Linked DNA regions of Homo sapiens: all the other regions are reported to be linked to region 3. Evidence: microRNA targets listed by miRTarBase, many of them from high-throughput screens and not tested one by one. Region 3 holds a microRNA gene; each other region holds the end of a gene's coding sequence.

Evidence for each region. Region 3 holds the annotated microRNA hsa-miR-155-5p (UUAAUGCUAAUCGUGAUAGGGGUU, at 3,083-3,106, opposite strand). A microRNA usually pairs through its seed, bases 2 to 8, with sites in the 3' UTR of a target mRNA and lowers its output. Matches are read on the target gene's strand: a 7mer-m8 pairs with bases 2 to 8, a 7mer-A1 pairs with bases 2 to 7 and ends in A, and an 8mer does both.
Region 1: miRTarBase lists VPS4B as a target of hsa-miR-155-5p. Seed matches in the 3' UTR shown: 7mer-A1 at 1,069-1,075.
Region 2: the mRNA of ARL8B is a reported target of hsa-miR-155-5p. Seed matches in the 3' UTR shown: 7mer-A1 at 2,991-2,997.
Region 4: the mRNA of IKBIP is a reported target of hsa-miR-155-5p. Seed matches in the 3' UTR shown: 8mer at 2,427-2,434 and 8mer at 1,138-1,145.
Region 5: miRTarBase lists ATP6V1H as a target of hsa-miR-155-5p. The part of its 3' UTR that is shown has no 7-base or 8-base seed match.
Region 6: the mRNA of RUNX2 is a reported target of hsa-miR-155-5p. The part of its 3' UTR that is shown has no 7-base or 8-base seed match.
Region 7: the mRNA of ZNF492 is a reported target of hsa-miR-155-5p. Seed matches in the 3' UTR shown: 8mer at 3,365-3,372.

What each region holds. Positions count from the first base shown.
Region 1 is chr18:63,387,357-63,391,974 of GRCh38, reverse strand. VPS4B (vacuolar protein sorting 4 homolog B) reads left to right here. Exons shown (of 11, transcript NM_004869.4): 11 at 899-2,785. The coding sequence ends at 1,000. Among named protein-coding and RNA genes, the nearest start is that of KDSR-DT, 22 kb to the right of the region's middle.
Region 2 is chr3:5,177,618-5,182,235 of GRCh38, forward strand. It overlaps ARL8B (ARF like GTPase 8B), which reads left to right. Exons shown (of 7, transcript NM_018184.3): 7 at 1,047-3,294. The coding sequence ends at 1,096. Among named protein-coding and RNA genes, the nearest start is that of EDEM1, 7.8 kb to the right of the region's middle. RefSeq lists an enhancer at 4,476-4,525.
Region 3 is chr21:25,572,471-25,577,088 of GRCh38, reverse strand. It overlaps MIR155 (microRNA 155), which reads right to left and starts at 3,109; the gene lies at 3,045-3,109. MIR155HG (MIR155 host gene) reads right to left here. Exons shown (of 3, transcript NR_001458.3): 3 at 1,921-3,196. RefSeq lists enhancers at 843-892, 1,285-1,434 and a silencer at 2,986-3,165.
Region 4 is chr12:98,623,229-98,626,228 of GRCh38, forward strand. It overlaps IKBIP (IKBKB interacting protein), which reads right to left. Exons shown (of 3, transcript NM_153687.4): 3 at 1,021-3,000. The coding sequence ends at 2,702. Among named protein-coding and RNA genes, the nearest start is that of IKBIP, 20 kb to the right of the region's middle.
Region 5 is chr8:53,712,126-53,716,455 of GRCh38, reverse strand. ATP6V1H (ATPase H+ transporting V1 subunit H) reads left to right here. Exons shown (of 14, transcript NM_015941.4): 14 at 432-913. The coding sequence ends at 492. It also overlaps the pseudogene NREPP2. Among named protein-coding and RNA genes, the nearest start is that of ATP6V1H, 130 kb to the left of the region's middle.
Region 6 is chr6:45,546,968-45,549,967 of GRCh38, forward strand. RUNX2 (RUNX family transcription factor 2) reads left to right here. Exons shown (of 9, transcript NM_001024630.4): 9 at 1-3,000. The coding sequence ends at 338. Among named protein-coding and RNA genes, the nearest start is that of RUNX2-AS1, 28 kb to the right of the region's middle.
Region 7 is chr19:22,664,260-22,668,877 of GRCh38, reverse strand. ZNF492 (zinc finger protein 492) reads right to left here. Exons shown (of 4, transcript NM_020855.3): 4 at 1,207-4,618. The coding sequence ends at 3,613. Among named protein-coding and RNA genes, the nearest start is that of ZNF492, 32 kb to the right of the region's middle.

The DNA of each region.
Region 1 (4,618 bases), not on the chromosome of region 3:
GAAGAATTTTTAGTAACTTAGAGTGGTCCTTTTCATTATTTTTCATATCCTTTTACAGGAGTCTAGGCTTAGAAGTTAGTTTTTTAATGAATCTCTGATATTAGCATATTTTTCTAACCATTTCGATCTTAATTGTAACTAATTATTTTAAAATTCTGGTTAGTAGATTTTTCATAGAATGGTATTCTGCTTCACTTAAGTGTAAGTGAATGATATTTTCCTTTTGAATTATACTGACTTGGAAAATTGATCTCGTTTAAGAAAAAGAGATAAGGCCAGAAATTAGATCATGAACATACTTTGGAGGCCTTGATCCTCAGACTAAGGGGATTGTCCTTCTGATAAGTATTGGGGAGCCATTTGATCAGTTCAGGGGAAGAAAGTATACGTTTCTACACAAAGGAATAACATGATCAAAGATCATGAAAGATCTGTGAAAGAATAGGGGCCGGGTGCAGGGGCCCACGCCTGTAATCCCAGCACTTCGCAAGGCAGAGGCAGGCGGATCACCTGAGGTCAGGGGTTCGAGACCAGCCTGACCAACAAAACGAAACCCCATCTCTACTAAAAATACAAAAATTAGCCAGGTGTGGTTTCAGGTGCCTGTAATCCCAGCTACTTGGGAGGCTGAGGCAGGAGAATCTCTTGAACCTGGGAGGCAGAGGTTGCAATGAGCCAAGATCACGCCACTGCGCTCCAGCCTGAGCCAACAGAGTGAGACTCCAACTCAAAAAAAAAAAAAAAGAATAGGGAGTTTATCGTTAGTATCTTATGGCAGACTGCAAATATTCATATTTAAACTTAGGTTAAAGTTCATAGCAATAATGATAATATGACGGTTTTTTATTTTGTTAACTCTATTATTAATATCCTCCCTACCCTTCTTTTTCCCTGACAGTCGGATATGTTGCGGTCACTATCTAACACAAAACCTACAGTCAATGAACATGACTTGTTGAAATTAAAGAAGTTTACAGAAGATTTTGGTCAAGAAGGCTAAGCCAAAGACAAGGAAGATGCTTACCATATGTATTCTTTCTTTCATAGATATTTTTGTCTATTTGGATCGCATTAATTGTTTCCAGTAAAACTCTTTTACCACAGGGAAATACACATCTCACTTCAGAGTTCCATTAGGTTTTATATTGTACTTTTCCTCCATTACTTATTAAATACTCCTATTAACAAAAGGTACAAAATAACAGGTTATGAGGAAATGAGCGATATATGAACGGCATAAAAACAGAAATTACCCAGTAAAAAGGATGTCAGAAATTGACATACAAATATTTACAATTTTTATGAATGGTGGTCTTTGCAAAGAGCATTTATATTTTCTTTTTTTTTTACTAAAATGATATAGGGTTTATTTTATATTTTCAAAAAAATTGTTAAACATCATTCTTATCAATGTAAAATTTACGTTATTAAAAAATTACAAATGATAGAATCTTTACTCAGGGATGGGCAATAAAACAGCAAAGAGCTTTGTGATTGGGTTTGAAAGATTTTGAATTATAGACAGTGCTCTTAATAGTTTTTAATAAGTTGATATTTTTTTCTGTGTAGATTTAAATAATTTCTTTAAAAGCGTAAGCTTTGGCTGGGCATGGTGGCTTATGCCTGTAATCCCAGCACTTTGGGAGGCTACGATGGGTGGATCACCTGAGGTCAGGAGTTCAAGACCAGTCTGGCCAACATGGTGAAATGCCGTCTCTACTAAAAATACAAAAATTAGCTGGGCATGATGGCGAGTGTCTGTAATCCCAGCTACTCAGGAGGCTGAGGCGGGAGAATCACTTGAACCTGGGAGGCAGAGGTTGCAGTGAGCTGAGATCGCGCTACTGCATTCCAGCCTGGGCGCCGAGATAGCGCCATTGCACTCCAGCCTGGGCGACTGAATAAAACTCTGTCTCAAAAAAAAACAAAAACGGTAAGCTTTTATATTTAATTAACTGATACCTTTCACTGTGCAATCTCAAGAGGAAGATTTTCTAAATTAGACATTGTCTTTACCTTAAAGAAGAAAATTGTCTATTTCAGTGTCTTTTTTAGCAAGATTGACCAAAACAGGTGGTAGGTGTGTAATTTTTAACTGTCATGAAATACTGTAATGCGCACCTTTGCTAATAAGGAAATGGTCTCCCTTTGAATTATGGGAAGTTTCTTGTCTGTGATATGGGGTGTCTGTGTACATATATGTATATTTCCTTTTTTAATACAGGATAATAATATGGGGTCTTGTCCTTCACCTTTTAAGTTCAGGGAACAGTTTGTCCTGACCACACATATGTTATCAGTGTAATGCTTTATGAAGCTTTAGAAATGAGCTCATGACTCATTAAAAAATAATAAACGATGCTATTTTAATATTTTCAAATAAATAATCTGAGGATGTGTTTCATACTTTAGCATCAACGCTGAGTTGTGCCTTGTAGAATTGCATTGTCTATACATGCAAAAGACTATTAAGTTAGGATGAACTAGATTCCCTAATTACAGTGAAATTCTATCTTGCAAATGCTATAGAATAACTTGCATTTTAAAGTGTATTTGCACATTTTACATATGCTATGTGGTTGCCTTTGGGTTTTCTGTACAGATTGTTTTTGTTATTAAATGGAAAAGGCCTGAATTATGCTCTTATGTGAAGTAAATTGATATAACCTATTGACTGTATTCTGTGTATTATTCTTTATTTTGGGACCTTCTGTGTAAAAGAAAATATTACCTAAATTGGTTAGATACAAAGAAATCATTAAAATTATTAATGTATATATGAAAATTCTGTTTTTCAATGACTTTTATGTGAGGATTGAGAACTAACTTAGTAAACTAACACTGAATTCTTTGTGGATAAGATAATTTATACATCTTACCTGTTTATCAGCCTCAGAATTATACAGTACTGCTGTGTGTTCTTTATGGACAGATACTCAAAGGAATCCGAATGGGCATGTTCTATTTCTCTGGCTCTTGACCAGTAATTATAAAGTTTAGGTAGACATTTTCTGAGCCAGCAAGTAGATCATAGTTGTTAAGCATCTCTATGACTTACACCCTGGATATTTGAAAGCATTTTGTCTCACCCTGAGAAATCTATAAGGACTCTATAATTATAAAACATGTCAATAGAGAATTGACTTCTGAGTCCACTGTCAACTACATGCAGAAAAACAGAATGAGTGTACTTGATTAGTGCCACAGAAGCACCATTTAGCCACTTTCAGAGTTGATAAAGAGGCATACCTACCTGATGGTGCTGTATGTTGCAAGTGAAGCAACACAGTGCCCATTGTTGACACTAATGTTATTTTAAGTTTGTGAGTTTTCACAGGTGCCCTTTTCTTTCCTACTTTCATCCCTTCATTTGTATCCTCCTCTTATTTTAATATGGTATCTTTCTTTTTTTTGCTAGTCCACATCACGTATTTCCATTAAAACCTAATGATGATGAACCATGTAACCTCTTGCAGGAAGACCACCCAAACTACCCCCACCCTACTTTTGGGTTTCTTTAGCAGTTAAATTGCTGCTGCTGCTGTGTTAAGATTTTTCTCTGGAGCATGTTCTATTGATCATGTTTAGATCATTTAGATTGTAAGTTCTGAGAGTTACATTTTCCCCAGCAATTAATATAGTGTTGAGTGCTTTTAGGTACTTAGTAAAGACTTGGGGAAAAAAAAAGGGAGTTATATTTTTATTTTGATCTACCTCATGGATTATGTGAGAGACTTATAAAATAGGTAAGTTTATAAAGTGGCTTTGTTCTTACTGGTCTAGTGAAGTTATGATAAATTTCTGTCTCGGTGATTGAGAACTACACAATCAAAAATGTATTCAAACTAGCTCACCCTGGCCCACCAAAACCGATAGTACATCTTTCCCAGCTGCGAGTTCAGTGACCTCATACTAGTAATTTAAAGTCTGCTCTGATGGGAATATTTATACCATAGAAACCAGCAAGAGTTCAGTTAGCCGTAAAAAATCAAGGACTGCCTGTAACTTAAAATAGGAAGATTAATACTATTTACTGCATTTATGGAAATAAAGGAGACAAGTTCTTTATAGATGCATAAAAAGCAATACAATTCAGCACTTGCTTTTTTTTTAACTGCACAAACTAGGAATAGAAGGGAACTTCTTAATAGAAGAAGTTCTACAAAAAAAACCTAGAGCCAACATATTTAATTGTGAATTTTTGAAAAGCGTATTCCTCCAGAGATCAGGAAAAAGGCAAAGGTGCCCACTATCACCACTTTTTCTCAACTTTGTACAGATTCTAGCCAGTGCAAGCAAAAGAAATGAAAGGCTTACAGATAAGAAATAAAATTGTCATTCACAGATGACATGATTGTAGAAAATTGATATAAACGTAGAAATAATGTGAATTTAACAAGGTTGCAGGATACAAAGTCAAAATTATCTTAGCAACAATTAGAAATTGAAATTATGAGAGTGGTGTGTGCCTATAGTCCCAACTATTGGGGAATTGAAGTGGGAGGATCACTTGAGCCCAGGAGTTCGAGGCTGCAGTGAGCTATTACCACACCACTGCACTCCAGCCTGGGTGAGGGAACGAGACCCTGTCTCAAAAAAAAAAAAAAAAAAAGGAAAA
Region 2 (4,618 bases), not on the chromosome of region 3:
GCTAATTTTTGTATTTTTAGTAGAGATGGGGTTTCACCATGTTGGCCAGGCTGGTCTCAAACTGCTGACCTCAGGTGATCACCTGCCTCGGCCTCCCAAAGTGTGGGATTACAGGTGTGAGCCACCGTGCCCGGCCATGAATTTCTTAAATATTTAAATTTGGTTATTTCACTTCAGATTTACCTTTCTCCCATTCAGTTCCAATGAGTGTGGCTTTGCTCGTATTGTGCACTGTTGTCCCCATTTTAAGGTGCAGAGGTGCTTCTTCAGTAGTTGGGTTAAATCATTGCTTCCACAATGGTGAACAGTTCATGTTTGTTATAGCTCAGCCCTGTGGTGTTTCGTTAATGCATGTTAGCTGGGAAACTGGTAGTGAATTTACCCTCATCTTTCAGGCTTGGAGAATAGAGTGGTGCTTCTGATAGACTCTCATGTACCCTTCTGAAGAAGTGAGGACAAGAATTACCCAGCCCCAGATGTCAAAAGGGCATGGTGTGAACCCTGCACCAGCCTTGGCAGTGACAGCCTCCTCTCCCATCCCTGTGCTTTAGTCACATTGTATCACTCACAATCCATCCAGAGCTCCACAATGTTTCATGCCTTTTAACATTCTTTTGCTGTTTTTTTTTTTTAACCTGGAGTTCTGTGGGGTGGCCCCCAAGCCCCGGGAATTACTGCATCTTTTCTGTGTATTATACTTAAAAGCGCCTTGAGGGCAAACAGGGGTTATTCCTTTTTTTTTTTTTTTTTTTTTGCCTTCCTGGCAATTTGCATGCAACACCTGATTGATTGTGTGGGCAACACATAAAAGGTGGCACCAGCCGTCCTATACACAACTTAATTTTTAAATCAGAAAACGCTTCAGTCTCTGATAATTCCTCATATTCTCTTGAAGTTCGGGTAATGGAGTATGGTAATGCAGATGCAGAAAAGCAGCAGAGGTCAGGCATAGTGTGTGCCTTGAATTAGCTGCCTTTTAAATATTGTCTCTGTTTGATGTTTAGTTTTTTAACTTTAATGTCTTCACTTTTCCCCTCTATCTTTAGATATCACACTTCAGTGGCTTATTCAGCATTCAAAATCTAGAAGAAGCTGAAGCATCTCCTGAAGTCTTCCAGTCCTTCTTGGCTATAATCCTAGAATTATTGTCCGTTCCTCTGAAGTAATTCCCAGAATACGGTCCTTCCTAAACCCCAGAAATTGCCTTTTTCAGAGTTTATTTCTCATGTGCACTGCTGAAGATGAATATCCCTAATCCTTCATAAAGAATCAGCTAGAGTTGTCATGATAAAGTCAGCACACACAAAAAGGCTTCTTACACATACCTGTCTTAAACCATGTGTAGAGCTTTAAAAACAGAAAAAAAACCCCATATACTTATGACCATCTTAAATCAAGAAAATTGCATATTTCCATTCTGGTCTTTCTGGGCCAGATTTTTATATTGGTTTTCAGTAAATGTCTATCTATAATATTTCATTATAGAGTCCAGTAGCTTAATACTGACACTGACTTGATACAGCATGAAGTTTCTAGTGCCACACACAGTATTTAGAAAACCTTTAGGCGTGAATGACTCATGTGGGATATATGTAAACATAATGTTTATTTTATCTCACAAATGCATGTGAAATGTATAATTACATCTTAGGAATCCAAAATGGTCTGCAGAGAGTGAGCGGAGGCACCAGATCAATGTTGGTTCTTTGCACTGGTGAGATTCTGCCTGATGAATATTAAAGATATCCTGCTTTCTGAGAACTCTATCACCAGATGGCAGTTGGGATATGGGAGGAACTAAAGCATCCTGTTTTGTATCTGTCCAGATCATTATTTCTGTCTCTTGTTTTTTCTTCCTGGTTCAGGATACTTTTTTAAGGGGTTGAGAATTGAAGATTTTCCAAAAGCGTTCATGAATTTAGAGCATTCCACCCAATATAATAAAACCTGTTAAGAATGTCAGTCTTTGTTCAAACATCTGTTTGTTCTATCTCCAGTCATTAAATCAGTGCTGCTGCATGACACTCTTAACTCCTGACTTTTTATATCCAGTCATAAAGTTGACTTTCAGCACAAAAGATACTTATAAACAAATAAAAAATTTTTATTTTTCTCTCTTACTGATGTAAGCTTTGGCACTCTTTTGACTGGTGCCATTAGACATCTTGATTATTGTGACAACTCTAGACCTGCCTGCTTTATCTAATGTAATCATGCTCAATGTCTACAGGTTGTTTAATAATCAGTCACACAGAGAACTGAGGAACTGATGCTGTTTGTTTGCTTCTATGATACAGAGATGTCTAAAAACTTCAAATGGACATGTTTTGTAGTTTAGCGACTTCCGTATACATAAAGGGACATATTAATACTGGTTCATTTGTAAATTATTATTCATATAGACCACTGTAGTAGATAAAACTCTATGGTACACCTGCTTATGTGTTGCCTCACACTGTGTGTGATTTTGTTTCTTTTGTTAAGCAGCACTTATGTAGACTGCATTTCCAAATGTGTTGAGCACTCAGAGTGTAGTCAACAGTAAGTTCTTTTAATGAATATCAGTTTTAATTTATAGACTGCCATGGCCTTAAAAATATTCTGTACAATATACTGCACTGTGTTGCACAGACACTACTTGCTTTTCTCCATTCATATTTTTATGAGTAGAATCTGGGCTTTTAAATTTCTCTTCTTATTCTTTGAAGCATGTTGCATACTACCCTGGTGGGATGGATGGTTCTGTAAATGAAGGGATATTTAAACTTGCTACTGTTGTTCAACACCATTAATGGTCAGTGTGAACCATTACAAAGAATGTGGCAACTTGCTTGTGCCTAAAAGGAGGAATTGGAACTAGAATGTGTGACTCTGTGGGGACTGCATAGGTTTGTTAATTGACCTATAGCTAAACCTTAATGTGTTTGTGTGTCTATACATTGCTTTCCGCATTTCAAGACATCCAGACGCTATTACCAACATTTTCCTGTGCATTAACCTCTGCATGTGAAAACTTTTAACAGTTACTGAACTATGTAAATATGTGAATTTTTTTATTTAGGTGGATGCATTTTTTGTCTGTTTACTGCTCTTCTCAGCTTTATTCAATAAACTTGCATTTTAAGGGTTGTATTGGCAATTTTAACTTAAAATGTGCATCATGATGGAAGGTGCAGACTTTTTTGGAAGTTTCCGAGAGGAGGGTCTATAGACCATTTGTCAGAAATCAGATCAGCCCTCAAAGAATGGGGTCTGTGGGCTAGTTAAAATAGAAATAAACTTTTAAAATATCCACAGAATTGATATTGTGATTTTTTGGGGGCGGGGGAAATGCTACTACTTGTCAACGGTCACAATACACCAAATTTAGGACTTTAAGTGGCAAGTGCTAGTAAAACATTTTATGTCCCAGTTTTTACAAATCAAACCAAGACCCTGCTAAGCAAATGAAGTTGCAAGACATGCCTATTCACTGACTTCAGTTCAGAATGGAAATATTTTAAGTACCGAACATGCTGGTTTTCCCACAAAGGCACATTTTTAGCATAAAGCTTTTTGCTAGTTTGGTATCATCTGCCCATAAAATAAGTCAATACTTGAGCTATTGGAAAAATAATTGTGTATATTTTTATTTGTTTAGAAAGGTTCAGTTAGCATTTTCTCCATACGCATACTACAATTCTGTACAGCCAACCCTTAGTGGCCAGTTGGATGCATGATTTCGCGTTTATTTCCCTGGAACGTCACGTTGATGTGTTTTTGTCTTTTCACTGCATTACTGGAGCCATGTAGTCAAGCATCAAGTTTCATCCACTTCTCACCATTCTCCTACCAAGGGGGTGAGTGTGTGAGAGTTGAGGGTGAGGATGGGGGAACACGGAGGATATACATTTAGCTTAATTCTAAATGTGTATCTGCTTTTAAAAACTTCTAAACTTATAAAGTTGGTCTTTGATTCTGTCAAGTAAATTGGGTGTTTGAGGAACTAACTGCTTTGTCTGTTTGCTCCATGTAGGATTGAGTTACACTGATACCCTGTTGATTTGGTAATTCCAGCTGCTCCAAGGGTCTGGTGGGTTCAGAACTGGAATGGAAGCTTAAACATAATGTAGTGGGCATCATGCTGTAACATCCAGTTGGCCAAATGCTTTACTCTAAAAATGTGCCACAGTGGGGAAAGCACGATGTTTGATGTTTAAAATGTTTTTGTTATGTTACAGACTTTTAAGGTTATGCCCTCAACTGTGCATAGCAGTGAAGAGACTTGAAAAGGAAGACAGTAAAGCCTTACAGACTTCCCTTAAGTTTGCTGCTCTATAAGTATGCAGCCTGCTGCAGGTGTTTCCTGTTGGTTAGTAAATAACCTCCACACATTGGCTGTTTAAAATTCAGCTATTAATAAAAATGTGTACTTTTGTCATTGCTCCTCTTGGGTGTTCTTAGGGAAACCAAAGCAGGTCATTGTCATGGTAGACAGACTGCAATAGGACTCTCTTAAAAATCTAAGCCACAGCAGTAGTCATTTATTATTCCATTCTATTAACCAGCCCTCTCTTCAGTAAGATAATTCTATTTTGAAATCCCAAGGCATCTGGCATTTAGGTAATGCAGATTTCCC
Region 3 (4,618 bases):
AAAAACCAAAACCAAAACAAAACAAAACAAAACACTACAGTAATAGAAAAAAAAAAAATCCTTATGTGAACATTATTTCACTTACTCTTATTGCTATGGGAGAATTTGAAACCCAAAGTGGAAAGTTAAACTCTTATGTGCAAGTTTTTCCTGCTGGTTTCACTGTTTTCCAGTTATTATTAGTAGAGAACCACATGCTCAGTCAGCTTTTTGTGCTTGTGTCCCATGTATGGACTCTATTATTTTTCTTTAAGCTCCCTTTTCACGTTTCCTCACTTTCTTGAGGTATTTGCTATCATCTATTTTCAGAAAATTTCTAATATTCTATGTTCTGTATATATTCTTCAGTCCTCTGACTTGACTTTTTCCCTCATATTCCTCTATTTTTTTTCTCCTTAATTTTTTAGCTACTGGGTCCATCTAACTGATGACAGTGAATACGAAAGGCTTGGTCTTGAATTCCGTAAATTTCTGGGGAAGTGGGTCAGATCCTAGATAAATCTCTTAACATTTTGCAATTTTTTAAAACCATCCTTAGTTTGTAACTTAAACACAAACGCGCGCGCACACACACACACACACACACACACACACACACACACATATACATATATATACCTTGTTACTTACCCCTTCCTCCAATCCAAACACAGACTCAGTCTTGCTCATGCTCCAAGAATTTTTGTAATGACTGGTCAGGAGGAATCCCTCTAAGATGAGGAGATAGGCAGTCAGAAGCCTAGGTGGGCTGGGCGTGAGAGAAAACCCAGGAACCCTGGTTCTTTGGGTCGTCACCACGGGATTGATTATAGTTAGTTTGGAGCTAGAGTGTCTTTGGGGAGATCTGCTATGGTAGATCATTTGATTTAAATGACTGAAATGTAAAAGTTTGAAAGTTTGTGTTTAACACTTAATGCATAATAGACATTGTGCTTTTCACATGCATGATTTCATTTAAGCCTACATCTTATGAAATATGAAATATATTCATCATTTTATTGATGAAGAAATTGAGGCTTAGAGGAAGATTAAGTAACTTTCCAAAGCTTCATGTGAGTGTACCCAAATGCTCTTCAAATAAGGCATTTCCCAGCACAGCTTTTCTTTAAGTGCCTTTGTAATGTTTATAGCTTTTTATTGTAACAGCAGGAAGGTTATACTACAATAGTTTATTCCAGTCCTAATGTTCTATGACTTTGTGTCTTTAGGCAGCAAGCAGGATTTTGAAGAACTGGGACTCAAAGCAAGGAGTCCTCTTGTAGATATACAGTGGCAGATAAAATGAATTGAACAGACACTTTTTTTTTTTTTTGAGATGGAGTCTCACTCTGTCACCCAGGCTGGAGGGCAGTGGCACGATCTTCGTTCACTGTGAACTCCACCTCCTGGGTTCAAGTGATTCTTCTGCCCCAGCCTCCTGAGTATCTGGGATTACAGGCACGCACCACCATGCCTAGCTAATTTTTGTATTTTTAGTAGAGACGAGGTTTCACTATGTTGGCCAGGGTAGTGTAGAACTCCTGACCTCAAGTGAACCACCCGCCTTGGCCTCCCAAAGTGTTGGAATTATAGGCGTGAGCCACTGTGCCTGGCCTGAAGAAACACTCTTGAATGTGTTCTACCTACATGGGAGCTCCGTGGAGCCACAAGCTCATTCCAGGTGTTAGGAGAAGAAATTTGTGTTGGCAGCACATACAACTTGAACAGAAAGTGAGGAGAAGAAATTTGTCTTGGCAGCACATACAACTTGAACAGAAAGTGGGGCAAAGCCAAATGGGTATTCTTACATGAGAATACTGTGTCCTAGGAGTCAGGAATGTTCCCTTTAGTGTCCTCATAATTTTCTTCCATTGTCTTTTTTTGGCAGATAGCTTCTGGAATTATAATTTGTACTTTGCAAAAGAAAATGGGCCATAAAAATTATTTTAAATCAACTAAAGACTCATGAGATTTATTTGGTTACAGTGAATAACCTGGACAAAATGTTGAGAAGAGTTGTTAAAACAAGTTTACATTAAATATACTAACAATTACGTTTGGTTACATATTTGTAAGTGATGGTTATTTAGAAAAACTGCATAGAAATCCAAACCTTAAATATTCTGCAAATCAAATCATTAGCTTTTCTCTTCTCTAATAAAGTAGGGTGACTAGTTCTTGGATTAATCTAACTATAACATTAATGTAGCACTTGATTATCTTATGGAATAATTCTCTATCTCATCTAAGCCTCACAACAACCTTGTAAAGTATTATCCCCATATGGAGGAAGAAACAGGCTTAGAAGTGGAAAGGTAGATTCTCTGCTCGCACAACCGTATTATGTGGCTAAGCTATTGAACTTGAACCTAGATTTGGGACTTCATTTCAAATATGAAATTTTTTGATTAAATCTTTTTATCTTGTATGGAAAAAATATCTCATTAGCTGTCAGATGTTATTTACCCTGCTAACTGTTAAAAATATTTCATTAAAAAAATTCAGCTTCATAGCCTTTCAGTTTCCCTTTAAGAGTCAAATAAAAGTATTAATTTTAAACTGAAGTTGCCTGAACAGAAAATCGTTACCTGGGGGAAAGTACCAGTTTCTAAATCTTTTAAAAAACGTTGCCAGACAATCCATGATATAACTGGAGGTTAGTAGTCCTTCTAATTTTTAACTACAAAAATATTATAGAAATTTGTGTTTAGCCCACATTTCTAACAGTTGAATCAAAGGTGTTTATGAACATTATAATGAACAAGCCAAAACCTGCAATTAAGAATGACATGAATATATTTTCTGTTAATGATAAAAACAAACATGGGCTTGACATTTAAATGAAAATGTTTGCATTTAGGATACTACTGATAAATCTTTTAAATAACCTTACTTTCAAAACTTAGTTTAAGGTTGAACATCCCAGTGACCAGATTATGATTAACAGATTGAAAAATGATAAAGCCTGAAGTCTAAGTTTATCCAGCAGGGTGACTCATGCTTCTTTGTCATCCTCCCACGGCAGCAATTTGTTCCATGTGAATGCTAGTAACAGGCATCATACACTGTTAATGCTAATATGTAGGAGTCAGTTGGAGGCAAAAACCCCTATCACGATTAGCATTAACAGCATACAGCCTACAGCAAGCCTTCAGCACTCAGAGGATGAGGCATAAAGAATTTAAACCACAGATTTCCCCTTCCTGGTTTGTGCCACCTGCAAGAGAGAAAGAAATGTTTGTGTATGCACATGCGGTTATAAAGCTGGAGTGACAGCATATAGTAAATCTGAAAGGAAAATAGTCCATTTTCTGTTGAAAGGAAGGAGCTCATTAAATCCTTGGAAGTAATTTTTTGAAAGTGGTAGAGAAATTGGCAATTAAAAGATGACATTGTTACCTTTAGGCATATTTGAAGACTTTGAAAATTATGTTTTAAATTCTATTCTCTAGTTTTGAATCGGGTACACATATGTATCATCTTCTTTAAATAAAAAACAAAAACCGCTCTTCGGAGTTTTCAAATGCCAAAATGCAAAGAGGAAAGCTTGCATTCTGACACAGTACAGTTTTTTTTTTTTCTGATTTGTACTTCATCTAGGAGCTAGACAATTAAAGGCCCAAATGTTCAAAATAGTCCTTTATGATTTATGAAAATTAAAACCCAATTAACCTGTTTTATAAGGGTAGGGTTCAGGCTGAATTTTTCTTTCTGTAATACATAGTTGAAGTTTTACCTTTATTCTTTCAGGAAATGTGATACAAGCAATGGAGGTTTGCCTACAAACGAATCTATCTGAAAATGTCCCCGTCTACTATTTAGAGATTCCTTTGGGGAAAGCACTACCCAGTGGCTTTGGTTTTGACTACATAAAGGAAGTATGACTTAAAGAGTCCTCTGTGTTTCAAACTACTTGTCTTAGGCAGAGGGTTGATTAAAAAAAAGAACAAGATGAATTTGCTACTTCCTTTTAGAGTCTGATTTTACTCTCTCAGATAAAGTGACATTTCTCCCACAGGTTTCTGATTTCAGTGTTACTATAACAGAACCTAGAAGTTAGAGTATCATTCAAGTATGTGGTCTCCTGCAGTACAAGAGGGGAATCACCTTTTCTTTTATTTAATAATGAAACCAGCTAGATATAAAAATGTGACTAAGTTCAAAAGAAACGTATGAAGTAAAAAATTCCCCAGTGAATATATTTTGACAGGGCAGAATATCGTGGTTTGGAAATTTCCAAACCAAGGAAATATATTATTCTTACTGATAGTATTTTTTTTTAAACTTTACTGTTTTCTGAGATGAATTAGTTGATGATGAAAAAATTTGGGTTAAATGATGTCACTTCAGGAATTCAATTCATTTTACAGAATTTCAGTCAATAAAGATTGTAAAAACAAGGACTTTTTTTCCCCCTTACAGGGTCCTGGACACAGTAAATGCTCAATAAATACATATTAATAATGTAGTGTTAGTGCCACCCCAGCCAATATAACTCGCCCTTTTCTTAAAAGATGTGTTTAATTTGTATTGAAGGTAAATTGCTGGCATACTATTCTACCCATAAATTTTATTCCTGTTCTTTAAAGATAACATATGAGCACAGGTATTAAAATAAATATATTTAGTATACTAATTA
Region 4 (3,000 bases), not on the chromosome of region 3:
CGGCCTCCCAAAGTGCTGGGATTACAGGGGTGAGCCACTGCGCCCAGCTGATCCAGTACTGTTATGCTTTTGAGACAGGGTCTTGCTCTGTCACCCAGGCTGGGAATGCAATGGTGCAGGTCACTGCAACCTTGAACACCTGGGCTCAGCCTCCTGCGTCGCTAGGACTACAGGGATGCGCTTTTTTTTGACTTTTAGTAGACATGAGGTCTCACCATGTTATCCAGGCTGGTCTTGAACTCCTGAGCTCAAGCGATCCTCCCACCTCAGCTTCCCAGAGTGTTGGAATTATAGGAGTGAGCCATTGTGCCTGGCCTTACTCCTCCTTACACTTTTTTTTTTTTTTTTTTTTTTTTTGTAGGGACGAGGTCTCACTATGTTACCCAGGCTGTCTCAAACTCCTGGGCTTAAGCCACTCTGCCTCAGCCTCCCAAAGTATTGGGATTACAAGTATGAGGCACTGTGCCTGGCCACTTTATAAGAAATTAATTGACATAAAATTTATTATCAGTTACAAAGATACAAAAATGTGTTTTAGGATATTGGTAATTTTCCCTAAAGAAAAGACTAACAATGTAATTTAATATTTGATACACAGGAAAGTTTTTGAAATTTTAAGCATCTGTGTTAAATAAATGAATGGAAGAAAGAGAGAAAGACAAATTAAGTACATCTAAATCTCTCTAATAATTTCTTAATAGGAAAACCTCTTCATAAATACAGGATATATCTATCTAGATATCTATACATACATACAAACGCATATATACTTTAATAGTTTTCTCATGTTATACTTGTAGAAGTGCAGTTTTCTTCCTTTCCCTTGTGTCATTATAGAGAACAGTAGCCACCTTGTTTCCATTTACTTTCAGTAACCATTACCATGGTATATATAAGTTCATAATAACCTCATATTAAATGTGGTGATCGGTGAGAAAAAAATATTTAAACGTAAAGGATATAAGATAAGAGATCACATTTGCCTTGACAGGATGGAGGTTAAAACAACAAAGTTCCAGCTTACTTTATAATCTATTTTATTACCATTAATATAAAAGTAAACAAATAGAATTTTGTCAGTGCACGCAAATAAGAGACATTCAGAAGTCAAGAAGTGTAATTTTAAGACTGCAAAAATTAATGCTATGCCCCTTAATAACAGAACTCTCCAGGCTTATTTTCATGATTCACGCTGTCTACCACAGGCCCTCCTAACTCCAGTGGAGAAGGAGTTTGGGGGTTCTCCAAAAACTTGCAAATTTACATATTAAAACTACTTGACCACAACTACCTTTTTGTAACTGACTGCTTTCAAGTTCTTTGTGTTTAATTCCATCAAAAACTGCATTATAAAACTGGTAAGGTTATTGACAAAGAAACAAGAACAAACTTCCATATTGCAGTTGACTACATTATATAATTTCAAATAAAATAAAATCAATTCATAAAACAAATTTAGTGGTGTGGTTTGGGAAATCTTTAAAATGACGTATTTTTAACTATCATAGTTATTATCATAATTAATTATCAGAGTTATGTTACTTTTCCCTCAAAACAGGCCACAGGCTTATTTTTATTTATTTATTTATTTATTGAGACAGAGTCTCACTTTGCCACTCAGGCTGGAGTGCAGTGGCGCGATCTCGGCTCACTGCAAGCTCTGCCTCCCGGGTTCACACCATTCTCCTGCCTCAGCCTCCTGAGTAGCTGGGACTACAGGCACCCACCACCACGCCTGGCTAATTTTTTGTATTTTTTAGTAGAGACAGGGTTTCACCCTGTTAGCCAGATGGTCTTGATCTCCTGACTTCGTGATCTGCCCACCTCGGCCTCCCAAAGTGCTAGGATTACAGGTGTGAGCCACTGCGCCTGGCCTATTTAAGTAAACCATCTAGAGACCATGGATCTAGCAAACTCATGTCTAACACAGTTGGAACCTAAAACTCAGGTATATAAAGATATTTCAAAGATTTATATACACATAATTCCTAAGAAAGGCCTTATGTAAGAACATACTTACTCTGATTTTAAAAGTCTTACAAGTATCTGTAACACAGTTTAGAACCTTAACAAAAACTAAAATGTTTCCCAGGCTTTAGAGTTTTCAGAAAGTGCATATTAATTCATAGCAAAGGCACCAGGCTCTCCCTCAGGCATGTTATCTTTTATTTTACACAAAATTCCCATGAACTTGGTTGTGTGGATTCTTAACCTGCAGTGAATTACCTAAGAAAGTGAACTGGCTGAGGCAGGCACATTACCAACCAACCTGACAGTAAGTTCAGGTGACAGAAAAGGTATGAGACATAGGTTTGAAAATGGCAAATTGGGGTCATTTAGTGAAGTGGTAAATACTCTTTATTAGCCCCTGGAGACATCAATATATGTGGGTACAATATAATAGGTGAAATTAATGATGATGTTCATTAATGCTTTAAAAAACATTAAAAATATTAAGTATCTTGTTTTAAAAGTAGAGAAATATTTTTAAAGAACTATTTCTATTTCAAATAGTTACAATGAAGTAAGTTTTAGTGCTTAAAAAGATAAGCTTTGATTATGTGGATAATCCATTTGTGTGGACATCTCATTTATTTTCCAATAATGTAGGATAAGATGAGGCGTATCAAAGTAACTCAAAATCAATGGACTAATCAATTTATGTATAATGATATGGTTCATCAGAATAAATGTCATGAATTTAAAAATCACCACCAATTCCTTTATTTTCTATATTATATTCTTTTAAAGTTCCCTTTTCTCCTGTACTTGAGTATGCTATAAAATCATGAACTTTTTCTTTTAGAATATCCAGTTCATTTTGCATCTTTAATATGCTATTATCATACTGAATTCCTTCAAGGGTTTTCTGCATCTCCATTATTTCAGACACTGCTTTCAGCATATCATCTTCCATATTAAACATCTGCATAGTCAAGTCTTCCATTTTCTTTTCTGTTTCTATCAGATCCTGAGAGACTCTGAGAACAGAGTGAATAG
Region 5 (4,330 bases), not on the chromosome of region 3:
ACATTTGTTTTTCATTTATGAGGTCATTCAGAATCGTAATTGAGGTGATGTTGAACTTCTTAGATTGCAGAAATGGCAGTAGCAGTAAACAAGACCTTTATCTGAACAGGAAAGTAGTCTTTCCCCAGGAAGTAATTACATTTCCTTGTAATCACCTGTTTGTGTAATCGTAATAACTTTACAAGTTATTCATAAAAATAGGAGAATGACTAGTTTGTCTTTGTCATAACTTGTTTGTGTATGATACATGAAGTAGAATTCATACAGCACAAGTACTTTGGAAATTTGGAAAAGTTTAATTTTCTAGGACTTTTTAGTTATTTTTGGATGTTAAAGTAAGTATATATGACAGTGCATAATGTGTTTCAATTTTGGAAGTGATTCTTTGCTATTGAAATTCTCATTCTCCTTACTTCATTCTTTTTTTTCAGGGAATACCTTGGCAAGCAGCTCCAGTCCGAGCAGCCCCAGACCGCTGCCGCCCGAAGCTAAGCCTGCCTCTGGCCTTCCCCTCCGCCTCAATGCAGAACCAGTAGTGGGAGCACTGTGTTTAGAGTTAAGAGTGAACACTGTTTGATTTTACTTGGAATTTCCTCTGTTATATAGCTTTTCCCAATGCTAATTTCCAAACAACAACAACAAAATAACATGTTTGCCTGTTAAGTTGTATAAAAGTAGGTGATTCTGTATTTAAAGAAAATATTACTGTTACATATACTGCTTGCAATTTCTGTATTTATTGTTCTCTGGAAATAAATATAGTTATTAAAGGATTCTCACTCCAAACATGGCCTCTCTCTTTACTTGGACTTTGAACAAAAGTCAACTGTTGTCTCTTTTCAAACCAAATTGGGAGAATTGTTGCAAAGTAGTGAATGGCAAATAAATGTTTTAAAATCTATCGCTCTATCAATCTATGTCTCTATGCAGCTCTCTGTTCATCTATATATCATCTGTGTATCTACACACACAGACACTATTAGTAGTAGCACAGCTGTAAAATCTTAGTTTTTAACATGATACTGTGGTTCAAAAGATTTGCTTTTGGAGTTCAGTGAGAAGTTTTAGCATTAGATTTATTTTCAGTACTTTTATCCTTGGTTTTTAGTGCCTTAAGTTTGTTTTGTCTTAATACATTTTGGTTTAAGCATTGCCAATATATATTTTATTCTCTCCCCTTTCGTTTCTAGAACCACATCCCTTTAGCAGTACATACATGGCATGCAGGCCTCCTCTGAGGCTTTTGTTTTTGAACCACGTCAGCTAATCTCTCTGAGTCTCATTTTTCATTCATTTTCATGTTTTTTCACTTTTTATTCCTAGCAGTTCTATGAATGTTGAGTAGATGTGCTAAAGCTAATAAAACATTTATTCTAGTAAGTTTTTTCTCCTATAGAAAGCCACTCGTAGAATCCATCTCCTGTTTAAGAATCGAAGATTGTTTCATTTTCAACATAGAAATCCTATGGAAGAAATTAGTTAAAATGATGCATAAATTAGTCAATGGGTTCATATGACTTGAATGATTTTCCTTAAAGGGGTTCATGTTTGCCAGAATAGAGGTAGTGTGATCAAACCAATTTTTTCTTTTACTAAAAGTTTAAAAATTGCTTATGTGTAGTTTACTTTTAGAAACATGGAAAATCATTAAATAGAACGTTTCTCATAGTAATTACAGATACTACATTAGCAGAAGATCAGGTTTCATGTTAATATATTAATGGTCTGTAAAATTTTTAGGATTTTAAGGCACTCAATTTCTAGAAGTCCTAGTAACCAGAGACACGGCCATCTTCTGAATTTCGTAAGAATACATGGATTGTTTGGTGTCATAGTTTCTGATTTTAGTTTCATTTTGCACAGCCCTATAGTTCTAAAGTAGAAATCAGTGACAATTGTTCTTGCAGAAAGTATTAGTGCTTTAGTTCCTAAGAAGTGCTTTTGTACATGGGAAGCAACACTCCCATGTAATCATGCTTTAATTTTTTTTTTTTTTTTACCTTACAGCTTGCATATTTATTGAACAAATACTACTAAAATAGCTAAAATACATTGGGTACTTGTCATGAGTGCATCGGTAAAGATCACACTGTTACAAAAGCCTGCATTTTCAGCAGTATACAGCTGCAACTCTACATAAATGCCACAGATGCAGAATACTGTTTTCTTGCTCTATTTACACAGCTGATATACCTATTCTAACAAAGGAGGGAGAGGAGTAATGCACAAGAAACTCAGGCCAATGGGGGAGCAAGAAGAAAACAAAGAAGTGCAGTGCATGCGTCATCGGTGTTTAACAGTCAGAAGCGAAACAGTTCAGAACAAGGCCTGCCCTGTCAAAAGAAGAGCTAAAAGACAGTTATATAAAAATTAAGGTGGGCTTTCAGACTGGCTAACACAACAACATTCCATGAGTAGATGGTAATTTATTTTTGTTTATCCATTTCGTTGGGAGCAAGGACAAAGATGTAAATCTACACCTTGCTTATCAAAATTGCCAAAAAAGAATGCTCTGCCTTTTAAAAAAGTACCATGATTTTGTAGACATTGTTTTCCAATTTAATATTTGGAAAAGGTGTCATTTTCATATTCCTACTCAGATGCCAGTGTTTTGGGTTTTTTTCAGGGGGAATTTATTTAAAAAGGTTTTGCTCTTTTTTTCCACAAATACCGTTTCAAACAGAAAGAACCCAAAGAGACACCTCAAAATGCCTGTAAAATTATTGCTTTTCTTTCTCTAAGTCAGGCAGGCGAGGCAACGGAAAGGAAGAGATTTGGTAAGTAAATTACAGTTTTGTGATTGCTCCCACTACCGTGACTGCATGTCTGTGGGTGCCAGCCGACGAGACAATCGTCTCTCACACTCTGGTAGCATTCACTCAACCTACAACACTGAGGAAGAAAGCCACACTGAAGACACAAGGAAAACAAGTCAATCCAGTCTAGAGAACAACATTCAGGGAAACAGAGTACCAACACCTTCTTAGAACATGGAAATAAAAAATAACTCCATCAGAGCTACCTCGCCAAGGAGCATGTTGAAAGTCCAAAATAGCACCATTCATCAGTGTCTCAGGTCCTGTGGCAGCATCTCGGTCAGTTACCACAAGGAAACAATGAGTTTCAAACTACTTCTATACATCAAAAGAGTACATGGATAAAATATAGAGATATACAGACAATTGCATAAACTACTAGGTTTGTTACATTCTAAATGAAAAAAAAAGGGGGGACTCAGGAGTGGACCAGTTGTGTGAGCACGGTGGGAGTTTGAGTTGTGGAAGACGTTGTAGCGAACCAGGCCTGAAGGCCCACCTGTAAGGGTTGTAAACGTGGATTCACGGTGTGAAATTCTGAGCATTTTCACTTGAGTCAGAATGATTAAAAACTGGTTTGATGATACCTATTTGTCCACTGTAAATTCTCTAAAGCAAGGCTCAGAGTCACATAGTTTCTTCTTATACTTAATGATTTACACAGAAAAAAATCCCATATATAATACCATGACCTCATCAATACCCATACACCATATGTAATACAAATGGAGGTGTTACGATTAAAAAAAGTAGAGGTAACTGATTCTTGGGGAGCGGAGTTCACTGCTGCCCATTGGAGTCAGGGAGGCAGCGTTTGTCTCATTGTTCTTCTTGCGGTTCACTTTCTTTGGGACAGGAAGTCTTCCCTTAGGAAACCTTCCCTCCATGTCCTTGTTTGGAAATGGTTCTTGACTGACCCAAAGAGTTCTGGGTAGTAAACCATTTTGAGAAGCTTAGTCTTGGGCTTCTATTCTCCCTGTTTTCAGTCCAGAGAGACCAACAGACAAAAGCCCCGCTCCCTGTTCACTCCCTCTCCTCTCTACACTCGGCAGGAATCGGCGAGCGGCCAACAGGCGCGCGCGCCCCGACACCCCGCACCCGCGCCCGGGCGCCCCGCTCGCCGCGCCGCCCCAACTGCACCGCGCGGCGCCCCGGGGAGACAAAGCGGACCTGCTGCTCTGCGCCCCGGCCAATCATGCTTTAATTATTATCTCGTATATTAAAATTAATTCCCTCGAGGTACGTTTTTTCCACCTTAAACCTTTACACCCAACTTACAGAGCATACAACAGTCATGAAAGGAGTCACTTTCATTTTTCCTTTGCTTATCAATGTTTTTGATTAACATTCAATGCTTAAACCCTCCTTAAACTATAATACCACCTACATGTTCAATTAAACTGCAGACACCTAATGGAGCAGACTTATAATATGACAAACCAAATCTTAGAAATTGCTTATGAGTCAAATGCAGGTAACTCGACCTAGGGATACAGGTAGTAAAAATACTGTTA
Region 6 (3,000 bases), not on the chromosome of region 3:
TCGGTATGTCCGCCACCACTCACTACCACACCTACCTGCCACCACCCTACCCCGGCTCTTCCCAAAGCCAGAGTGGACCCTTCCAGACCAGCAGCACTCCATATCTCTACTATGGCACTTCGTCAGGATCCTATCAGTTTCCCATGGTGCCGGGGGGAGACCGGTCTCCTTCCAGAATGCTTCCGCCATGCACCACCACCTCGAATGGCAGCACGCTATTAAATCCAAATTTGCCTAACCAGAATGATGGTGTTGACGCTGATGGAAGCCACAGCAGTTCCCCAACTGTTTTGAATTCTAGTGGCAGAATGGATGAATCTGTTTGGCGACCATATTGAAATTCCTCAGCAGTGGCCCAGTGGTATCTGGGGGCCACATCCCACACGTATCAATATATACATATATAGAGAGAGTGCATATATATGTATATCGATTAGCTATCTACAAAGTGCCTATTTTTTAGAAGATTTTTCATTCACTCACTCAGTCATGATCTTGCAGCCATAAGAGGGTAGATATTGAGAAGCAGAAGGCTCAAGAGAGACAATTGCAATCGAGCTTCAGATTGTTTACTATTTAAGATGTACTTTTACAAAGGAACAAAGAAGGGAAAAGGTATTTTTGTTTTTGTTGTTTGGTCTGTTATCATCAATAACCTGTTCATATGCCAATTCAGAGAGGTGGACTCCAGGTTCAGGAGGGAGAAGAGCAAAGCCGCTTCCTCTCTGTGCTTTGAAACTTCACACCCTCACGGTGGCAGCTGTGTATGGACCAGTGCCCTCCGCAGACAGCTCACAAAACCAGTTGAGGTGCACTAAAGGGACATGAGGTAGAATGGATGCTTCCATCACAGTACCATCATTCAGAATAACTCTTCCAATTTCTGCTTTCAGACATGCTGCAGGTCCTCATCTGAACTGTTGGGTTCGTTTTTTTTTTTTTTTTTCCTGCTCCAAGAAAGTGACTTCAAAAATAACTGATCAGGATAGATTATTTTATTTTACTTTTTAACACTCCTTCTCCCCTTTTCCCACTGAACCAAAAAGAAATCCCATCCCTAAAACCTGCCTTCTCCTTTTATGCAAAACTGAAAATGGCAATACATTATTATAGCCATAATGGTATAGATAGTGATTGCGTTTGGCTATGTGTTGTTTTCTTTTTTTTTAAATTATGAATATGTGTAAAATCTGAGGTAACTTGCTAACGTGAATGGTCATATAACTTTAAAGATATATTTATAATTATTTAATGACATTTGGACCCTTGAAACATTTCTTAGTGTATTGATATGTTGACTTCGGTCTCTAAAAGTGCTCTTTATTAAATAACAAATTTCTTCAGTGGTCTAGAGCCATATCTGAAATATTGCTAAGCAATTTCAGTTCATCCAGGCACAATGTGATTTTAAAAAATACTTCCATCTCCAAATATTTTAGATATAGATTGTTTTTGTGATGTATGAAGGAAATGTTATGTTTAGTTCTTTCAGATCTTTGAATGCCTCTAACACAGCTTTGCCTTCTAAAGCGGTAATTAGGGATTTAAAAAACAACCTTTAGCCCTTTATCAGCATGAAATGCTGGAGTGATGTGGTTTTCTAATTTCTTTGGGGTAATTATGACTCTTGTCATATTAAAAAGACAAGCACAAGTAAATCATTGAACTACAGAAAAATGTTCTGTGGTTTCATAGTTAAGCAAAACTCTAAATCGCCAGGCTTCATAGCAAAGACATAGTCAGCTAAAAGCCGCACATGTGGATAGAGGGTTCAATTATGAGACACCTAGTACAGGAGAGCAAAATTGCACCAGAGATTCTTAACCAACCAGCCTTACCAAACAACACAACAGGGGAACCCCAATCTGCCTTACCCAAGGCCCCACTGGCAGCTTTCCACAGAATTTGCATTTAGAGGAGCAGAATGACATCACTGTCCTTTGGGAGTAGGTCCTCTGAAAAGGCAGCAGGTTCCAGCAGGTAGCTGAGCTGAGAGGACATATGGCCCACGGGGACCTACAGACAGCCTTTGACATTTGTATTTCTTACAATGGAGGGCCAAGGAGGGCAAGGGGCTGTGGAGTTTGGTGTCTACTAGTGTGTATGAATTTGAGCTAGAGTCCTTCTGTGGCATGCACTTTGACCACTCCTGGCAGTCACATGGCAGATTTCCAAGTGCAAATCCTTAATCCAAACAAGGATCATCTAATGACACCACCAGGCCAATCCCTGCTCTCCTCCCCGAAAAGTCAGGGTCCCTTCATTGGAATCCTCCACCCACCCAAGCAGAATTTAGCAGAGATTTGCCTTCAAACCCTAACGGCCCCCTTGTTCTCTGGTCCTTCTCAAACCCACCTTTGTAGGCCACCCAGCATTGCAGGACAGCGTGTGGGGCAGCTGGACCTGTGCTTCCTGCCTGGGAGTCTCCCTTGGAATTCATCCTGACTCCTTCTAATAAAAATGGATGGGAAAGCAAAACACTTTGCCTTCTAAAGGCCGTATACCAAGTATGCTTAGATAAATAAGCCACTTTTCTATTACTTAAGTAAGAAGGAAGTAGTAATTGATACTATTTATTGTTTGTGTGTGGTAGCTTGAAGCACACCACTGTCCATTTATTTGTAAGTGTAAAATATGTGTGTTTGTTTCAGCAGCACTTAAAAAAGCCAGTGTCTGGTTACACATTTCAATTTTAATTAATTGACATAAAAATGCTACCGCCAGTGCCAGCTGCATCCTATTTAATTAAAAAGGTACTATATTTGTACATTATTTTTTAATGTTAAAAGGGCTTTTTTAAGTTTACAGTACACATACCGAGTGACTTTAGGGATGCTTTTGTGTTGAAATGTTACTATAGTGGCTGCAGGCAGCAACCCAGAAACACTTTAGAAGCTTTTTTTCCTTGGGAAAAATTCAAGCACTTCTTCCCTCCACCCTCACTCCAACCACCCCAATGGGGGTAATTCACATTTCTTAGAACAAATTCTGCCCTTTTTT
Region 7 (4,618 bases), not on the chromosome of region 3:
ATAACATACGAAAAGTAGGCTTATATAGGGTTCTCCAATTAAATGAAATGTTCCAACTAAATAAAATTTAATGCACTAATTTTAGAATTACAGCTAAAAATTATTTTGTGTACATGACTAAGTTTATTTTATTTTGAGGTGGAGTCTTGCTCTGTCGCCCACGCTGGAGTGCAGTGGCACAATCTTGGCTCACTGTGACCTCTGTCTCCCGGGTTAAAGCTATTCTCCTGCCTCAGCCTCCCAGTAGCTGGGATTACAGGAGCATGCCACCATGCCTGGCTAATTTTTGTTATTTTTGGTAGAGATGAGGTTTCACCATGTTGGCCAGGTTGATCTTGAACTCCTGACCTCAAGTGATCCACCCACCTCGGCCTCCCAAAGTGTTGGGATTATAGGTGTGAGCCACTGCACCCAGCCCATAACTAAATTTCATTAAAATCATTCTTATAATCACAGAGCAGCTCACAAAATGAATACCTCATAAACTATAAAACAACAAATATATATCAGAAACAAGAAATTTATGGGCCTAGCATGAGTACCAGACAAGTGAAAACAAGAGAATTTGAATGGCAAGATTCTGAACCATAAGCCGTAAAATTATACAGTAAAATTCAATACAAACCAGAGTATAGATTTGCATTCATTTTTGAGGATTTTTGTTTTCTAAAAAAGTAGACACCTGACCAGGTGTAGTGGTTCACGCCTGTAATCCTAGTACTTTGGAAGATTGAGGCAGGTGGATCACCTGAGGTCAGGAGTTCAAGACTAGCCTGACCAAAATGATGAAACCCCATCTGTACTAAAAATACAAAAATTATCTGGGCATGGTGGCCTGCGCCTGTAGTCCTACCTACTAGGGAGGCTGAAACAGGAGAACTGCTTGAACCCAGGAGGCAGAGTTACAGTGAGCGGAGGTCACGCCACTGCACTCCAGCCTAGGCAACAGAGTGAGATTCTGTCTCCAAAAAAAAAAAAAAAAGAAAAAAGAAAAGAAAATTAGACACCTTATTAAAATGATGTCTTGTTCCAATATTATTCTGAAAATAGTTACAAACTCATACTCAAACACACTTAATCCATAATCTTCTTACACCTAAGGTTTATATTTAGACTAATAGATGTGTACATTTAACTCTATGTAAATCAAAACTAAAAGCCTGTATCTGTTTGCAAGTAGAGAGGCCACATATTCAAAGAAAAATATACAAGAAATTATTTTTATTTATTCAGGACTCAGAAATGTGTAAATTTTATACTTGTATATAATTTTTATTATAAAAATAACCCTGTAGTCAATAACAATCGTATATTTTAAAAAAACTAAAACTGTACAATTGAACTGTTCATAATACAAAAAATAAATTCTAAAGGTGATGGATACCTCATTTACCCTAATGTGATTATTACATATTGTATGCCTCTTATCAGAATATGCCATATATAACATAAATATTATATGCCTGAAAAAACTAACAAAAGTAAATTTAAATGGGAAAAAATAAATAAAAATTTTACCTACAGAAACAACATTCCTTATTTGCAGTTTAAAGCCACTGGAAAAAAGATTAGTACTACAGATGTTAGTGCATTCTTTTACCAAATAGTGTATTGTTACCACCATTTATTTTATTTACTTATTTATTTTTTGAGAGGGAGTCTCACTTTGTCACCCAGGACGGAGTGCCATGGCATGATCTCGGCTCACCGCAACCTCTGCTTCCCGGGTTCAAGTGATTCTCCTGCCTCAGCCTCCCGAGTAGCTGGGATTACAGGCATGCGCCACCATGCCTGGCTAATTTTGTATTTTTAGTAGAGATGGCGTTTCTCCATGTTGGTCAGGCTGGTCTTGAACTCCCGACCTCAGGTGATCTACCCACCTTTGCCTCCCAAAGTGCTGGGATTACAGGCGTGAGCCACCGTGCCCGGCCTTGTTACCACCTTTTACCTACACCCTTGAGTAAGGTGGACTAGGTTAAAGTAAGTGGAATAATGTGACTTGATTGAATGCACAATATTTAAACTGTTAAAAATGTTGAATTAAGAAATTAAGTTCACACATAATCTAAAATTTTTAACATGTACTGCATTTTCATAAAAGTAAAATTAGTAAAATAATATACTAATTTATTTTTAATTTTAACTAAAACTAAAAATTTGTCTCTCAATATAATGCAGAATATTACTCAGAACACCTACCTCATGCATCACTCAGTACTGTAAGTGAATCACAAAGAACCTCTTTACTTAGATTTTCATCATGCATTTTAATGTCCTTACTCTTTCATAGAAGAGGTCATAAATGCTCACCTAATAAAAAATAATCCTCATATCTTTTGGTCACATGCTTTCACATATGAATACAATAGGAATAAAGAAACAACATCAGGCAGGCGCAGTGGCTAACACCTGTAATTGCAGCATTGCGGGAGGCCAAGCTGGGCGGATCACCTAAAGTCTCGAGTTCGAGACCAGCCTGGCCAACATGGCAAAACCCTGGCTCTATTAAAAATACAAAATTTAGCCACGCATGGTGGTTTGCGCCTGTAATCCCAGCCACTTGGGAGGCTGAGGCAGGAGAATCACTTGAACCCTGGAGACGGAGGTTGCAGTGAGCTGAGATCGTGCCACTGTACTCCAGCCTGGGGGGGCGATAGAGCAAGACTCCATCTAAAAAAAAAAAAAAAAAGAAGAAGAAAAAGAAAAACTAATTTCCTTAGCATGAAGTAATTTGAGAGTTAATTACAACATTAACACGAAGTAATTTGAGTTAATTACAACATTATTTGTATGAAGTAATTTGAGAGTTATTTACTTTTAAAAAAAATCTGTAATCTTTCTAAAAAAAAGTATACTTGTAACTCTCCAAAAAATCTTCTACTCTTTTAAAGTTATAAACAAATAATTTTTCTGCCAAGTTTAGTTTTGGATTACTTTCTAAACTCAGAACTCTGATTCAGTGTAAAGTCTGAAGTGTCATTGCCTTATATATTTCTAACATAAATTCTCTGATATTTACATAAACTTACCATTGAATTAAATATTTTTTTCTATTTACTGTATATGCAAAAATATTTTAATATGAACTCTCTGGAATTTTCTAACCTGTAGTTTTTGAATAAATGTTTTTTTCTAAATTTATTACATTTACAGGGTTTTTCTTCGATATAAATTCTCTGATGTTGAACAAAGTTTGAGCAATTGCCTCAGGGTTTGCTCTAATACAGAATGAATACAACAAGATCTGTGTTACAAGTAAAGTTACCACAACTTCGTTTATATTTGTAATGTTTGTCTTCAAAATAAATCCTCTTCAGCACTTTAAATGCTTATTTTTTGAACTCTTTTGACAGTAATTGCACTTTTAATGCTATTAATATAAACTCTGATGTTGAATAAGATGTGCACAGATATTAATCACTTTTTTACTTTCTTTATATTTGTACATTTGTTCTCAAGTATAAAGGCTTTCCTGTGCAATAAGGTTTGAGCATTGTGTAAGTTTTGCCACACTGTTCATTCACACTTGTAGAAGTTTTCTCCAGAATGAATTACCTTACCTACAATCCAGTGTGATAACCATTTAAAGGCTTTGTCACATTCATATTTCTATTATTTCTCACCAGCACAATTTCTTTTATATTTGGAAATCTTTGCAATGTTGTCACAAGCATTGTTACAACTTTCAGGTTTGTAGAGTTTCTCTCCAGTATGAATCATCTTATGTCTGTTAAGAATAGAGGAGTTGTTAAAGGCTTTGCCACATTCTTCACACTTGTAGGGTTTCTCTCCAGTATGAATCATCTTATGTGTAGTAAGGTGTGAGGACTGGTTAAAAGCTTTGCCACATTCTTCATATTTGTAGGGCTTCTCTCCAGTATGAATTACCTTATGTTTAGAAAGAGTTGAGGACTGGTTAAAAGCTTTGCCACATTCTTCACATTTGTAGGGTTTCTCTCCAGTATGAATTATCTTATGTGTAGTAAGTTGTGACGATAGGTTAAAAGCTTTGCCACATTCTTCACATTTGTAGGGCTTCTCTCCAGTATGAATTCTCTTATGTGTAGTAAGGTGTGAGAACCGGCTAAAGGCTTTGCTACATACTTCACATTTGTAGAATTTCTCTCCAGCATGAATTCTCTTATGTGTAGTAAGGGTTGAGGATTGTTTAAAAGCTTTGCCACATTCTTCACACTTGTAGGGTTTCTCTCCAGAATGAATTCTCTTATGTGTAGTAAGGTGGGATAACTGGCTAAAGGCCTTACCACATTCTTCACATTTGTAGAATTTCTCTCCAGTATGAATTATCTTATGTGTAGTAAGGGTTGAGGACTGGCTAAAAGCTTTGCCACATTCTTCACATTTGTAAGGTTTCTCTCCAGCATGAATTATCTTATGTGCAGTAAGGGTTGAGGACTGGCTAAAAGCTCTGCCACATTCTTCACATTTGTAGGGTTTCTCTCCAGTATGAATTCTCTTATGTGTAGTAAGGTTTGCAGATTGGTTAAAAGCTTTGCCACACTCCTCACATTTGTAGGGTTTCTTTCCAGTATGAATTATCTTATGTGTAGTAAGGTGTGAGAGCCGGTTAAAGGCTTTTCCACACTCTTCGCATTTG